Homo sapiens: one gene and its partners. The protein of the gene in region 3 purifies or fractionates together with the protein of the main gene of each other region. This does not show direct contact. Each region holds a gene or a part of one and is shown on either strand. Other genes may lie near its edges. The genes, in order: VANGL2, SPATA7 and BNIP3L.

Region 1 (3,654 bases), on a different chromosome or scaffold from region 3:
CTCTTCTCCCCCAGGGACCCACCTGGCCCTCCTCTTGCGCACCCTTCGCTCATGCTCAGCCTCCTCATAGTAGTACTCATTGTGACTGTTGTCCCGCCTCCGAGCTGCCGCTGCAATCACAGCCCGAGACTGGCCAGTGGAGTTGTTGGTGCTGTTTTCTGCACAGGAACAGGATAGAGGAGATGGTCACATCAGAGTGTGGCCTCTCTTCCCACTCCAGGAGCTCTGGAGACAGCAGCCTGACATGTCCAGAAGAAGCTGTTCCCACCACCCAGCAATACCTCCTAATCCCAACCCTCCTGGCCACCTCTGGGAGAGGCCATAGGAAAGCAACAAGGAAGGCACTGGAAGCGCAAGAGTCCTGCAGTTGTTCCTCCCCAGTGCAGGGGGTTCTGCAGCTCCGAGAGCCAAAGGGCTTAGACCAGGGCTGATGAGAGACACAGAGGAGCCAGATCAGGGGACATGCCATAGCATAAAGGGACAGCAAGTAGGATGAGCAGCTAAGATCAGCCACCTGGAGTCAAGGGAAATGACTGAATAGAAGCGGCTAGAACATGGGCTAAGGAAAGGAAAAAGCAAGGGACAAAGGGTAAAAGAGAGGCGGGAACTTGGAGTCCTGCTTGGGAAGAGACAGGGAAGGGCAGAGGAGCAGGGCTGCTCACCCTCTCCGAGGGAATACACCTTGAAGCCAGACACTTTCTTGGCCAGGACGGACTTGGGCAGGTTGAGGAGGGCAGGGTTGTAGACAGGGAAGTCATGGTAATACTTCTCCAGGATCCACACTGCCACGCGCTGGATGCTGTGGGGGAGACGGCAGGAGGGGGTGGGAGAAGGGACAGACCAAGGGGCACAGGGGAAAGGGACACATTAGGGCAGGTTGGCAGGGCAGGAGAGGACACAGGACAGGGACAAGCTGCTTCCGAGAAGCCTGACTCCGGGCCTGAGGTCTACTTACCAGGCTCCCAAGCCTTTCCCAGGGCTGGGCCTGCCAGTCCCTCCCCACCATGCCAAAGCCTAGCAGAGAAAGGGCATTGGGCCTGGGTCCCCAGCCAAAGATCACCTCATCCCCATTCAGCGTTCCCCCAAGATCCTCTACAGGACCCAGGACGTGCCACTGATATTCTGTGTGGCCTCGAGGGGTAGCTTGTTTACTGGGAGCTGAAGAACTCTCCTCCTTATCTCTTTCTCTGGGGATCCCTCCTCTGGCCAGGTCACTTCACAGGCCACTCTGAGTGCTCACAAGAAGCTGCGCCTCCCAGAAAGGACTAGAAAAGGGATTCCAAAAAGCCCCTGTTTGTGCACCCCCCCATATTTCTTCCCTTTGGTCCATCCCCCTCTAATATTCCCTACCTCTAAATGCCTATTCATTCCCATCTCATAACTCCCAACTGATCTTGCCCCAAGACCGTGTACATGAACCTGCCTATCAAGCAGCAAACATTGGTGAAAACCTACTTGGTGCAAAGTACTCAACTCCCTCCCACACAACCCTCCAAGCCCATCACCTCCAGCCCACCATCATACCCTCCCACCCTAGCAGTCACTCCACATCCTCCCATGCCCTTTCCCTCCCAACCCTTCTCCAGCCGTGGGCTAGTACCTGAGATGGCCAACGTTGTAGAAGCGGCTGGCGCCGTCGGTGGAGCGCACGACCTTGAGCGTGAACTGAGGCTGGAGCTGGCGCAGCTCCAGCAGGACCACGGCCAGGTAGTGCACGAAAAGAAGGGCGTCCACCAGCGACACGGCGAACTGCACCACGCCCTGGTAGCTGCGCTCCCGAGCATCCAGGATGCGCACACCATAGAAGAGCCAGTAGGAGACCACGAGCAGGAAAACCAGCACCATAAGCAGGGCACGCAGCACAAAGACGCGGGGCAGCGAGGCCTTGGGCCGGCGGAAGAACAGAGCCCAGCTGCCCAGTAGCAGGATGAGCAGCTTGAAGGCGACAGAGATGAAGAGGCCCTCGCAGGCCGTCCCGCAAGGCTCCAGCTCCTCCCGCCACAGCAGTGGGGGCAGCAGCAGGAAGGCCAGAGGCGTGAGGAAAGACAGCAGTGCCAGGGTGGCCCCCGCTGCCACACCCAGGTGACGGGAGCAGTCCAGAGGGACACTGTCCTCCATGTCCTTGGCGATGCGTGTGAGGTCATCATGGGAGATGCTGTGCTCTGAGGTGCCCGTTACTACTGTCGTCGTTTCCCCCCAGTTGTCATCCTACAGGCAGAAGGGGGCCAGCCACACAATAAGGAGGAAAGGATAAGAAGAGGAAGAGGAGGGAAACAGGAGAAAGGGTGAGGGGACAGGAGACAGAGAAGAACACATGGGAAAGGAGAAGGCAGAAAGAAGAGAGGGTAATCAACAAATACGCAACCATCAAAGTATTTACTGAGCTCCAATGTGTGTCAAAGTCTGGCCTCTGCAGATGGCCAAATCCAAGACCCGAGCCCTCGGGGAGCTGGACACTGGTCAGTGAGAGAGGAAAAAACCACACATGCGGCAATGACCCTCAGAGCAGACAGCACAGGACAAATGCTGAAGATGCTGCTCAGGCAGTGACTGGGATCCAAGGGCAAACTCGCCAAGCAAAGCAGGCAGGCTTCCAGAAACCGTGGGACCTGAGCTGATCCTTGGGGGAAGGGGGCTCCAAGGAAGATGTTCTCAATCCCAGATGCACACATTAGAACACTTAGGGAAGTTGGAAAATAATGCTAATTATTGGAGAGTGCAATCTGCTTGTGAACCTTTAAAAAAAAAAAACAAAAAACTCCCCAGATGATTGTAATGGTCATCCAAGATTGAGAATCACTGAACTAAATGATTTCTAAGGGCTGGCTGGCTACTTAAAATGTGATCTGTGGACCAGCGGTGTGGACATCACCTGGGAGCTTGTTAGAAAGGCGGAACCTCAGGCCCACCGCATGTTTACTGAACCAAATCTGCATTTTAACAAGATCCACATGAATCACTCAAACATTAACATTAATTCTGGAAGTCCTGCTGGGCACGGTGGCTCACGCCTGTAATCCCAGCACTTTGGGAGGCCGAGGTGGGCAGATCGCCTGAGGTCGGGAGTTCGAGACCAGCCTGACCAACATGGAGAAATCCCATCTCTACTAAAAACACACACACACAAAAAATTAGCTGGGTGTGGTGGCACATGCCTGTAATCCCAGCTACTCGGGAGGCTGATGCAGGAGAATCGCTTGAACCCAGGAGGAGGAGGTTGTGGTGAGCAGAGATCGTGCCATTGCACTCCAGCCTGGGCAACAAGAGCGAAACTCCATCTCAAAAAAAAAAAAAAAAAAAATTATGGAAGTCCTATCTAAGTTCCTTCCAGCATGCCATGATTTTGGCAGAAGCTAGAGGAGGAGCCTCCAGGGCAGGAATGGCATGAACTGAGGCACCCAAGGGCTATGAGAGCAGAGGATCCCTGTGCAGAAGCACAGCAAGGTGCAACCAGGAAGGTAAGGCAGACAGCAGCCAGGCAGGGCTTGTGCAGGCCACGCTGCAGTGCTGGGCTGGGCAATAAGCACCTGTTCTCCAGGCATGGAGAGCCACTGAAGGAGTAAACCTGATCAAAGCAGCACAGAGAAGAACAGAAGACCCCAGGGGTAAAGGGGTGAAGGCGTGAAGGACACTGTGCAGACTCAAGGCCACTCT
Region 2 (3,654 bases), on a different chromosome or scaffold from region 3:
TTTAAGCATAAATACATATGATTTTGTATGTGTACTTTTTTTCTTGTGGTGGCAAAAACTAACCAAACTTATCATCTTAACCATTTTTAAGTGCACGATTCAGCAGTGTTAGGTATATTCATATTGTGATACAGATTGCCAAAACTTTTCATTATGTATCCTGAAACTCTTTACCCATATTATGCAAATATTATTAACCAACTTTTTAAAATGAAAGGGGTCAACAGAATTAATGCCAAAAATCTTAGGTCTTTTTGATATGCCTTTTTATACCAATAATGAAAATGTTTGCTTTAATTTTTTAAAAAACTTGATGTAGAGGATAGAAATAATTTATTAAAAATGTCTATGCTTGGCATATTATTATGACAGAGAAAGCAAGTAGTATACATAATAGGGTCCTAGGTTACATAACACAAAGTAGAGCTCAGTGCTCAATGAATCTTAGATACATAAATGTTCAAGCAAAATTCAGGACACACAGTTTCCTTAAGCTATGCAATAGCTAATCTGGTTTTGCAAACTTTCCATTTAACTTACAGCGTGCAAACCTAGCTCTTAATTTGTTCTCATTTTACTAGATCTAATACTAATAATGGTTGCACCAAAAATGCTTGCTTTTGATTCTCATGACAATTTTAGGTAGTAAAATGGGATTATGGAGCTTTGCAAATAAGTGATAAAGATCTTCCTTCACTAGTCACTTATAACTCAAGGGATATAATATTAAAATGAATAAAAGCTCTATTCTTTAATTCTCCCAAGTGGTGAACTTCCCCTAGAGTATGAATTAAACATTCTTTACAACTTGCTATCAATTATAATAATAAGTTTCCAAGAAAGCAATATATTTTTTCATTTCCTAATATGGGAAAATAACTTTAAAATTTTAACATCATATGAAGAAATATGAAGAATATTTAATGTACTCCTGAATTAACATAACACCATTAAAAAAACTAACCTGTTTGAAAATAAACCAAGTTTCAAAATTTCATCTGTTACATCTTCAATGAAACTCAGATACAACAGTTCTTCTTCACTGTAAAAGGAAGGCAATATATAGCATAAAAATTATTCCTTACTTATTCTGAAAACTGTAAGAAACATTAGTACCTAATTAGAAATATCTATCTCTACCATTACCAATGTACTTCTATCTCATATTACTAAGGGGAATATTACAAAACAAACATGTCTACCTTCTCAAATTATGCAAGGATAAATATTTACTAAAGGTGATGACCTAATAGAGTAAAATTTCACAGATATCTGCAACATCCATAGCAGTAAAAAACAAGCAGAATTAAACAACACAAAAAGAAAGCAACGAAGGACAAGGCGCAATCAAATGCAATCCACTGGGAGCAAGCACTCCCGAGGAATGTTTTAAATTTCCTCTTGCTCCTGACCAGGTCCAGCAGCAGAGGTGCAAGTCCCTCTGCAAAGCATTTGCAAGAAGGAAGAGGAAAGTTGTCCAGAGAAGCAGGAGCTTCAACTAAGAAGTCCTCTCCTAGCCCTAGGCCAGCATCTTGTTTTAAGGTTGAGAAATTTACTAAGCAGAAAAATTTATTTTTTCTCTCAAAACGTTTGGAGACGAAAAATTCTCATAGGAAAATTTGTGAACATAAATCTTGTGGTAATTTTTAACTACTTGAACACACTTCTCTATTATAACTATATTTTAGTAGCTATTACAAGAAAATTAGGATATTATTGTACGTTTGATTTTAATTAGCTGAAATTAGTGAATTAATACCAAATGTAAGTAGCAAGTAACTAAATTACTGAATAAGCAAATATAAGGGAAGAGTTAATAAGCAAATCAAATAATAGATTTAAATGTTTAATAAAAAGTTACACTTTCAAACTGATTCACAGGGTCTTGCTTATTTAAAAACAGCATATTTGAAAATAAATAAAATTTTATAAATTATTTTCCCTAAAAAGAGTAACTTAATTAAAACAACATTAAAATCTACAAATAAAATATCTGCAAAGAACTGCTGAGGTTAGAAACCTCTGGAAAGAGTATCCTGAACTATTAAAAGTCTGCATTTCTCTAAAACTCTTCTTTATTATTTTATTATTTTTACTTAAAAAATAAGTAAGAATCATGGATACTGATTATTAAAAAGTATCAGGTAATACCTGGGGACAAATTTCTACTGGAGATAAAAATGACGTGATTGATAATTATTCCAGAAAGTTGTTATTATTTCTCAAAAAAATTCGAGAAAATTATTCAGGTCAGTTTCTCAAATTTAGTATGTATTATACGATTGATATCCCAAAGCTGGTTGTAAGAGAGATTAGTGTTCACAGATGAATGGATAAAGAAAATGTATATATACACCATGAAATACTATTCAGCCATAAAAACAAATAAAATCATGTCATTTGTGGCAACATGGATGGAACATGGATGGATGCTGGTGAAATAAGCCAGCAACAGAAAGTTAAACATCGCATGTTCTCACTCATATGTGGAAGCTAAAAACAGTTGATTTCATAGAAGTAGAAAGTAGAACAGAAGGTACTGGAGGCTGGGAAGGGTAGACGGGAATGAGGGACAAGCTGAGATTTGTTACAAGATACAAAATTATAGCTAGATAGGAGGAGTAAGTTCTAGTGTTCTATACCACTATAGGATGACTACCATGGTTAACAATAATACATAGTTTCAAATAGCTAGAAGAAGGATACTCAATGTTTCCAACACAAAGAAATGATAAAATGTTCGAGATGATGGATATGCTAATTAAACTGTTCTAATCACTGTACAGTATATGTATCAAAATATCACTAGGTACTCCATGAATATGTACATTTATTACTTGCCAGTTTTAAAAAAAGAGATTATTGTTCAATCCTGACTTATTTAATATGGTTTCTTTGATTCTTAATCCTTGATTCCACTATGCAAAACGAAGACTTAAAAAAGATCTTACTCAGAGTAGATTTTACGAGTTGAAGGGGGCTTCAGGGAATACTGACACATTGCCCTAGAAAGAGGAAGTTAAAGTAGTTGAGCAAAACAGTGGTTGGCATACAATAAGTACTCAATAACATTGTATATTAGTACACACTGAATAGCCCTTATCTTAGATGTTTGGAACCAGAAGTGTTTCAGAATTTGGATTTTGGAATATTTCCATTATATACTTAGTAGTTGAGCATCTCAATCCAAAAATCTGAAATCCAAAAATGTTCCAATGAGCATTTCCTTTGGGCATCATGTCGGATTTTGGAGTATGGTGAATTACAGATTTTCAAATTTGGGATGCTCAACCTGTAATTACATGTTTCAGCAATTTTTAAAGCACTCTCATACCCATATCTAATTTAATCTTCTAAACAACCCAGTCAGGCATGTGGGCTGTGTATTATTTTTCCCATTTACTGATTAGTTCACCAAGGGTCAGAAAGGCTAAGTAACTTTCCAAGGTTAATGTTAGTAAGCAGCAAAGACAGGTTTTTAAACTACTTTTCTAGGTATAAATTCACAATTCTTTTTAAAACTACACTACGGCACTTCTCTAGTATAAACAATGACAATTTGACTAAGGTTAATGTATAGATAATGCTGGATATAGATACATTATTATGAAAATATTTTTAAAGGTGGTCATCATGATAAATTTTGTTATTATT
Region 3 (3,441 bases):
ACTGTCTAAAATTTACATCTTAAATCACCTCCTGGTTTAAAAGAAGTAAACCCAGCTAACTATATGATGAAGTGTGACCCCTGGGAGGGCACACACATTTCAATTAGGTTCAGTACTAACCTACATTTTTCAGTTTCCTCTGTATCCATCCTGTTTTCCAGGCACGTGGAACTTCCAGTTCCTTCTGGATCCACTTTCACTGGTGTCCCACTGTCATTTCCATCAGGGCACACTCTTCTTCTCTCCTGTACTTCCTGAGCACTCCTCCCGTGAGCGCCCTCCTGCCACTACCTGGAGGCAAATGCTCTGAATGCCACAGTCCCGAGGCACTCACGAATGCTCACACTGCGGTGACTGTCCCCACAGAACACCGTTCACACCCTGAGCACTGTTAGGAACTCCACTGCTGGGGAAGCCAGATGACTGGAAGGCTGTGTGTAGGCGAGGAGGCCTCATCGCCTGAAACTCCCAGGCAACAGGTGCGACAGAAAAATGATATACTGACAGGAAAAGTTTTGTGAGAGCTTTAATGGCACAAAATGTTTATAGCTACAAGTTATACATGTATTGTAAACTGTATATAACGATACAAAGTGCTAACTAAAATAGATGAAGAATGCATAATCACTTTGGCTCAGTTAATTCCAATAATTTCCACAACGGGTTCATGAAAAAACTTATCTGACTGGCTAAGTCTTCAATTCTCATTTTTTTAGAATAGTAAATATTTTTACTGCAATCACGGGAACTTGTTGCACTTTCCAATGTGCAAGTTTGTGCAGTTTTGCTCTTGATTCTATTTACAAACATCTTGAGCCAGTTTTCATCAAACATATGAAAAATGAAGCCTGCCTTTTTGTCCCCAAATTGTAAACAGGTGTAAAGCTTTTTAAACATTAACCTCACAATTTCAACTATTAATTGTTGAATTCTCCTTTCCAAACCACAATGTTTTCGTTCAACACAAATCTGGGTGTAGCAGTAAAACGTTCATCCCATGTGTTAGGGCTACAGATACATACTACATGCTCTCATAATAAATTCTACTGTGATGATGTATTCACGTTTTAAGTAATTTTCCATAATTTCACTGATGCTTTAAGAAAAAGGGCAACACTATGTTTCTTTTTAACGCTGAAAGAAATCATAAATATACCCAGTTTCAGTGGCACCACTGATAGAACTGCTGCTGAACTTGGAAAGAGCACAATGCACTAGCTGTAAGAAGTCACTTTCAGGTAAAGTGTAATTTTACTTTTCCCCCCTGTAATACCAATTGTAATAGAAATTGCATACTGTAGCAGTTTAGCTAGTCAGTTCTCCTAACTTTCCAGTCTTTCCAATTTTATTCAGGCTTTTCAAAAATCAGTGAGCCATCAGATTTACTTTCTTCCCAAAGAAATTCAAATATGAACACTTGAAATAAATAGGTTATAGAAGGCAAATCAAGTGTTACCAGGTTTAAGAGTAAGACAGAAACATGGTCTAGGAAAAAGATGTCCAAAATTATTTAGACATCAAATGCTAGAAAGAAAAAAGAAAATTACTTTCAAAACTAGGATATATCATCTTTCTTAAAGATAGCCAGCTATATTCTTGAAAAAAGATAAAAATTTTGTTTAATCTATATGTTATTTTCCACTATAACACATCAATTTTACAAATGTTGATGTGAGAAAAGAGTTAGTTTCTGCAAACTGGCAAACCTGTCTGTCATAGTGTTTTTATTCAAGTTGACCTGGTGCACTTTATAGATTGCTAGTTTTAAAATTAACAACGGTTCTCTAAATAGTCAATATCAATGTCTATATCATAAACAGTAATTATTTATATATAAAACATGTGGTATCCTTCAGAGTCATGCTAGATGTTCTGAAATCCAAGAAAATCTACTCGAGATAACTGGTCATCCTGATGCTTTCTAACAATTTGGTCCTAAAGCTTCACATTTTAGAAATGAACGAACAAGTATATCACTGAAGGAATCTGTTGAGTGTTCTGAACTTTAAGAGTTTACCATAACTGAAAAGACAGCTACATGAGAAAATGACCAGTGCCTGCAGTCGCAGGAATCACCTTGGGAAGACTGTACAGTAAACATTATTCAGTGAGAGATCAGAAGGAAACAAATGGCATCTTTTCAGAACGCTGTCAACTGTTCCCACAACCCAAGTCTGTTTTTCCAAGTTGCACAAGTGCTTGGAATAACTCTGAAACAATTCTCTTCAGAGTTTAAAGGCTTCAGAGTATAGGTGATGCTTCCTAAAACAAGAAGCCTGTATTAACATCACAAATTGGAACTCATTCCAAAGCCTCTTCTTAGAGAAAAAAAAATAAAGAAATAAAAAATAAAAAATGTAAAGAAGGTCATGAAAAATTCACATGCAGCTAATTATCGTAAAAAATATCAAACACACACGCAAAAATCTCAAAAAGCAATTTCATATATTTCTAAGCCTGAGACGTTCCTTATCAGAAAGAAAGATTCTACACCATAGAAAAGACAGCATTACAACATACTAGTATGAAAATCTGCTGATGTATTTTACTTCTTATTCTATTTCATACCTATCATTTATACAGTTTGCCTCCTATAAATTAAAAGACGCTATTAGGAGGCTTAGACAAAAAAGTGGCTCCAAAGCTGGTTTAAAATATTTTTTTTATTGCCCAGGATATTTTTTTGTTGTGCCTTGCCTTTTTTTTTTGTTTTGTTTTCTTTTTAATAACTATCAACTCAAACTTAGGGAAACTTGCCTTTGTCTTGGGGGAAAAAAAACAACTAGACAATAAAGCTTCTTTTACATCATTTGCTAACCTGATCTCGTTTTAAGAGAGAGATGGTAGTTATGTTGCAAGAGTAAAATTTATACCATGAATGATACAGGTCTAGTCTGGTGGCACTAATTAGAGATAATAGCATTGCTGACAAAATTATAATCTGCTGGTGGCATTTGCGGAAAAGAAGCCCTTGCAAATTTCTAAACAACAGTAAACTCTGTTAGGAAATTCTAAAATGTCTTCAGGCCAAAAAGGGTATAAGGTTAGTAAAATGCCTCAACAGAGTTTGAATAAAATATTGAATTTGAGAGTTACTGGAATTGGATATGTAAAAACAGGGTGGTAGGTTGGGTCATGCTTACAATGGTCTCAAGTTCAAATAAGCTACTGTGACAATACACCACTTCACAGGTCACACGCATTTCCAGGGGCTTTTCCTTTCCCTCAGTAGGTGCTGGCAGAGGGTGTGCTCAGTCGCTTTCCAATATAGATGCTGAAAGGAAGCAGAAGCATCATGTTTCACCTGTTTCAACAGTTCTATACCAGCTTGTCCACAGGTTGAACTCTACTTAAAACTCTTCAGTCTTTGTAAAAGGCTCTAAAGGTTTGTGGGTACCGCTCCCCAAACACCGTGAAATCATCACTGACTTTCTTAAAACC

The links.
Region 1: the proteins of BNIP3L (region 3) and VANGL2 purify together in Homo sapiens (affinity purification with western blotting, with the first as the bait; one study listed by BioGRID). This does not show direct contact.
Region 2: the proteins of BNIP3L (region 3) and SPATA7 purify together in Homo sapiens (affinity purification with mass spectrometry; one large-scale study listed by BioGRID and IntAct). This does not show direct contact.

Annotation. Positions count from the first base shown.
Region 1 is NC_000001.11:160,417,556-160,421,209, reverse strand, and holds part of VANGL2 (vang-like protein 2), read right to left. Parts: intron 2,209-3,654; coding exon 1,601-2,208; intron 1,266-1,600; coding exon of another isoform or gene 1,217-1,265; exon of another isoform or gene 812-1,216; intron 800-811; coding exon 663-799; intron 159-662; coding exon 23-158; intron 1-22. UniProt on the Homo sapiens protein: Involved in the control of early morphogenesis and patterning of both axial midline structures and the development of neural plate. Plays a role in the regulation of planar cell polarity, particularly in the orientation of stereociliary bundles in the cochlea.
Region 2 is NC_000014.9:88,430,523-88,434,176, reverse strand, and holds part of SPATA7 (spermatogenesis-associated protein 7), read right to left. Parts: intron 3,006-3,654; coding exon 2,952-3,005; intron 1,043-2,951; coding exon 965-1,042; intron 1-964. UniProt on the Homo sapiens protein: Involved in the maintenance of both rod and cone photoreceptor cells.
Region 3 is NC_000008.11:26,410,197-26,413,637, reverse strand, and holds the end of BNIP3L (BCL2/adenovirus E1B 19 kDa protein-interacting protein 3-like), read right to left. Parts: intron 3,275-3,441; coding exon 3,226-3,274; 3' UTR 511-3,225; downstream 1-510.